Linked DNA regions of Homo sapiens: region 2 is linked to region 1. The links come from fine-mapping of genetic effects on gene expression. Tissue or cell type: aorta. Region 1 holds a variant in brackets; the other region holds the start of a gene. All regions are shown on one strand. Distances are from middle to middle.

What was found. PIP is the estimated chance that this variant, and not a neighbour inherited with it, causes the effect.
Region 2: it holds the start of IRX2, and the variant in region 1 is the best candidate, but not a certain one, in a credible set for the expression of IRX2 in aorta (GTEx, PIP 0.56).

What each region holds. Positions count from the first base shown.
Region 1 is chr5:2,095,001-2,097,754 of GRCh38, reverse strand. LOC105374618 (a long non-coding RNA gene) reads right to left here. Exons shown (of 13, transcript NR_171679.1): 8 at 1,113-1,229; 9 at 1-516. Among named protein-coding and RNA genes, the nearest start is that of CTD-2194D22.4, 210 kb to the right of the region's middle. The variant T/C (reference allele first, on the strand shown) is at 1,673.
Region 2 is chr5:2,750,459-2,752,958 of GRCh38, reverse strand. It overlaps IRX2 (iroquois homeobox 2), which reads left to right and starts at 1,282. Exons shown (of 4, transcript NM_033267.5): 1 at 1,282-1,794. The coding sequence starts at 1,546. IRX2-DT (IRX2 divergent transcript) reads right to left here and starts at 1,066. Exons shown (of 4, transcript NR_122126.2): 1 at 495-1,066; 2 at 205-279. RefSeq lists an enhancer at 243-1,167.

The DNA.
Region 1 (2,754 bases):
TCCTCGCACTCTGGATCCCCTGTGTGGCAGAAGTCACAGATCACCCAGAACAGGGGAACCTGCATTTTTCTAGCAAATTTGCTATTCCTGCCAGGTGAGCATCCTGCCAGGTGAACATCCTGCCAGGTGAGCATCCTGCCAGGTGAGCAGGTGCCTTCTCTGGCAGATCAATGGCAGCCTTGTGGCTTTCCAGCACCCATCGCCCCCTCAGCCCACTCCATTCTATCACAGGAAGAGCAAATCACATTTTGGGAGATGCTTGGTACCATAGAGGGCATCTCCTTAGGCACAGGTGCTAGGACAGTGCGCAGGGTCACCTGCGGCAGAGCCCACCATGGACCCCCTCCTCTTCTTGGCCCCACAACACCTCATCACAGGTCCTGAGGTCCTGGGAGATGCAGACCCTGGCTTTCCAGCCACGGCAGCACTCAGTCACTGTAGACGTGGTCGCCAGGGGACGAGGTCACAGACATTCTTTTGGTGTCGTCCGCTGGAGATATGATCACATGCTCAACCCTGAAGCAAGAGAAACAAACTGAGAACAGAATTGGAGGCGGGAACGGGGAGAGCCGCTACGATCCACCAGCTCACCTGTGGAGAGAGAACCAAGGAAAAACAGTATTGATTTTTTTTACAAGCCAGTGCACAGATTTGTCAGACAAAAGAATAGAGATGTCAACCCCTGGACCCGCTCTCCAGCACGGCAGGCCTTCAGGCGGCCAGAGCCAAGGCGGCACTCCGCGACTCCTGCACTGGCTGCAGAGGGGATGGGCAGTTTGATGAAAGAAGGAAACGCCAGCCCTCGCACGGATATGCGTGTCAGTAACTCCCACCTGAGCAGAGCTCAGAGATGCTTCCAGCACAGCCCAAGAGAGGTGGCTCCCTGGTCTCAGCATCTGCCGAGGTTACCTCTCTCCTCTGGGGGCTGTGGGAGGCGCTTCTGCACGGGGTCACAGGAAGGTTTTGGATGTTTACCTGAAGGGCGGTTCTGTTAGAAAACTCCAAAACCAACGGACATTTTAGATTTCAAAGAGAATCCAGTACAACGTATTTTCATCTCCTAACCCAACAAAAGGGAATCTGAGCTGATTATTAGAAGTTTACTCTTTTACCTGGCAGGGGGCAAAGAGCATAGACATCCCCAGGTCTCCAGATGCACAGGTGGAGGAATTCGTCCACTAACGCACCCTCGGAACAAACACCTGAACACACAGGAAAACTCGGTGTATCTGGAGAAGGAATGTGTTCGTTAATTGCATTTTTGAATATCTAGCTAAGCACAACATCCCTTTAGAGTCCACCTGTCCTTTAAAATTCTTTCTAAAATAAATCTGACAATTTTCCTGATCTGCCATGCTGAATAGTTTGACGACATTGATCATTTGGGGAAATCGTGGCTGTCAGAGGCCATTCAGAAAATAATATTATGAGGATGAAGGACCACAGGTAGGGAGCCCCATAGAAGAGTTGGAACTGCTTCATTTTTGTGTTTACTCCTTTATTCAGGCTTGATAGGTTTCTCTGAGTTTTACCTTCCTCTTTCTAAGAAGGAAACTGCTGTCATGTAATTTAAAGTTCCCGTTGGTCATTTCTAATGAATAAAAGGTTACGAATGTCGAGTAGTAGTTGGGTGCCATGTAAACTAGTTCAACCATTGTGGAAGTCAGTGTGG[T/C]GATTCCTCAGGGATCTAGAACTAGAAATACCATTTGACCCAGCCATCCCATTACTGGGTATATACCCAAAGGACTATAAATCATGCTGCTATAAAGACACATGCACACGTATGTTTATTGTGGCACTATTCACAATAGCAAAGACTTGGAACCAACCTAAATGTCCAACAACGATAGACTGGATTAAGAAAATGTGGCACATATACACCATGGAATACTATGCAGCCATAAAAAAGGATGAGTTCATGTCCTTTGTAGGGACATGGATGAAGCTGGAAACCACCATTCTCAGCAAACTATCGTAAGGACAGAAAATCAAACACCACATGTTCTCACTCATAGGTGGGAATTGAACAATGAGAACACATGGACACAGGAAGGGGAACATCACACTCCGGGGACTGTTGTGGGGTGGGGGGAGGGGGGAGGGATAGCATTAGGAGATATACGTAATGCTAGATGACGAGTTAGTGGGTGCAGCACACCAACATGGCACATGTATACATATGTAACAAACCTGCACATTGTGCACATGTACCCTAAAACTTAAAGTATAATAATAATTTAAAAACAAATGGGTGGTCAACATTCTAACCTCTAAAATAATAGTTTCTGACAATACGATTGCTACATTTTTGAAAATTATCATAGCTAGGTCATCATACTTGGCATATACTCAAGTATGTTCTTTCATGTACATTTCTTAAACATGCATGTGTCTCCTGTGACATTTAGAGAAATGTCTCCTTAGACGCAATATTTCAAACATTAGAAAGTGCGGTCGCCTAAATTGCATTCACAGAGCTCCCTCGGCGGGATTCCTGAGTGCGATCCTGGGCGATCCCCCCACCGCGGTTTCTGGAAGACTCTGATGAACGCATCCACCAATGGGTGGGGAAATGAGGTCAGCATCCTGTGGTTCAAGGATCCTAGGATCAGTGACTGGGAGTTACAGGTTTGGGCATCACTCAGCATAAGTGGCTGTGAAACCCTAGGGCAGCGTCCCCTCTGAAAGCCCATCTGCTCGGACATGAAGTGCAGAAACTTGGGGTGAGTTGGGACACAGCTGGCTGCCCTGCCC
Region 2 (2,500 bases), 660 kb before region 1:
CCCTGAGCGCCCCCCATAGGTGACCCTTCGGAGTGGGCAGCCAGACGCCCTCTTCGGCCATCCCCGAGTGGAAAAGGGTTGGAGAAGCGTGATGGGGAGAGGGTTCTAGGAAGCTGGGGTCCTAGGAACCCTCGCCAACCGCCTCGCTTCTGAGCCCCGCAAGGCAACCGCCCCCCTACTCCAGCCGCGCGTCACCTGAGCTACCTGTAATGCCCACTGCACCGGCGGCGCCAACCTGAGCTCCTGCCCGTTCTCGACGTGACTGGGAGGCTTCAGGTCCTGCCAGAGGCGGTTTGTCAGGTAACAATCATCCCCCCAGTGTTTTGACAACACAAATCTGAAAGAGGAGTCAACTTAGAAAAACAAAATAAAATAAAACTCTTTAGGGGACGGCGTCTTCTTAGCTGAAGCCCTGGCGTCATTCCCAACAGTGGAAAGTCGTAACGTTCAGGGCCCCGGGGGTTGCGCTGCGGATTTGGGGGCAGAAAGCTCACCTCAGGGCCCTCCTGGCAATTCGCAACCAAGGCGCCCCGGATCCAGGTCCATGCTGGGCGGAGTGGACCGCGAGGGGTAGGCGACCAGACGCGAGGCCACGCGGGGAGCCTCGGGCCAGGAGGCAGAGCAGGTCCGGGACCGTGGAAGTGAGAGCCGCGCGCACTGCCCGGAGGAAGACCCGAGCCGCGGGCGCCACCATCCTGACCTCCCCACTTCCCTGCGACTTCCGGATTGGACACAGGGGCCGGGCCTCCTCGGGGTGCACAGCGGGGCAGGCTGTGAGTCCCCTAATTGGACCCGGCCTGGCCTGACCGCGGGCGGCCTCTGCCTAGTCCGTGAGGGTGGAGAAGGGGGTGGGGGCGGGGTAGTGGCTGGAAGGGGCGGGGGCCGGGCAGGGGCGAAGACGGTGGCCGGGGACGGTGGGAGCCGGCCGGAGCCGGGCAGGGGACGTGGCTCCGAGTGGATGGGAGTGGGAGGGGTGCGCGCCGGGGCACGCAGCGCGGCCGGGCTGGGCTGCAGGTCCGCGAGCCGCGGGCTGGGGCCGGAGCTGCTAGAGAGGCGGCTGCGCCACAAAAGCCTGCCGGTCCCTCCCGCCGCCCGCCTCCGTCGCCTCCGCCCTCCCCCGCCTCCCTCCCGTCTCTCTGCCCCTCCCCCGGCCGCGGCCCGGAGGCTGCAGCGGGCGGAGCAGGGGAGGGGCGGGCCCCCGAATATGCAGATGAGCGCGTGATGGACAGCTGCGCGTTCCAATGTCCCTCGGAAACTCGAGCGCTCCTTCCTCAACTCCTCACTCCCGACTCCAGACTCCCCCAAACCCCGACCGCCGGCCTGGCGCGCGGCTGCGCCCACCGGCTCCGCGCTGCTGCCGCCGCCACCGCCACCCCGCCGCCGCCCCGGCCCGCGGGCCGCCCAGGCTAGTACCCGGGCCGGCCTGCCTCCGCCGGCCGTCCGGGTGCCCGCCGCCGCGCCGCGCCCCGGCCGGGCGTGGATGGAGGGCGCCGCGCGCCCTGCCCGCTGCTCGGCGTGACGCGGGCCCCGCGCCCCGCGCCCACCATGTCCTACCCGCAGGGCTACCTGTACCAGGCGCCCGGCTCGCTGGCGCTCTACTCGTGCCCGGCCTACGGCGCGTCGGCTTTGGCGGCTCCGCGCAGCGAGGAGCTGGCGCGCTCGGCGTCGGGCTCGGCGTTCAGCCCCTACCCGGGCTCGGCGGCCTTCACGGCGCAGGCGGCCACCGGCTTCGGGAGCCCGCTGCAGTACTCGGCCGACGCCGCCGCCGCCGCCGCCGGCTTCCCGTCCTACATGGTAACCGGGCGCGGGCGGGACGCGGGACTCCTGGGCGCCGGGACCCAGACGGGGCTCAGGCGGAGCGGGGCTCGGGTTCGGCGGGCGGGGGCCGCCGGGAATGTGGCGCGGCTGGCGACTCAGGAGTCGCCGGCTCGGTTGGCCGCCCCGCAGGCTGAGCCGGGCCCCGGGTGGGGAGGGCAGCGCGGCAGGCGGGGACGTCCCTGAGCCCGGCCGGGACCCGCGCGCCCCCCGCGCGTCCCCTCGGCTCGCCGGCTGATTTTCTCTGAGAGCCTGGGAAGTGCGTCTCCGCCGGGGCCGGGGTCTGGCGCCGTTTGTCCCTGGTTTCCGCACCGCAGCCTGGGGAGGCGTTCGGAGCGGGCTGTGTGCTCGCCTGCATTGGCGTGGGGCGCGAGGGTCCGCGTCACTGCGGCCTCTGAGCCGACGGCCGGGCGGTTCGCATTCACTCGCGGGGCTCAGGGCGGTGGGGGTCACCGAGTTAGGCCCAGGAGCCGAGCATTCAGCTGCGGCTCCGGAGTCCGGCCCGAGGCGCCCAGGTTTCGGCCTTACTCTGTCCAGCGGACCATGCTTTCAAATATCGTGCTTGCGGGCGCGTGACCCGCTAAGGGCCGCCTGAGTCCTCCGTGGCCCGAGCGCAGCTCCTGCTCCGGCGACCTGGGGGCGGCTCGCGAGTCTCGAGGTTACTGAGCTGGGCCAGGCCCGGGCC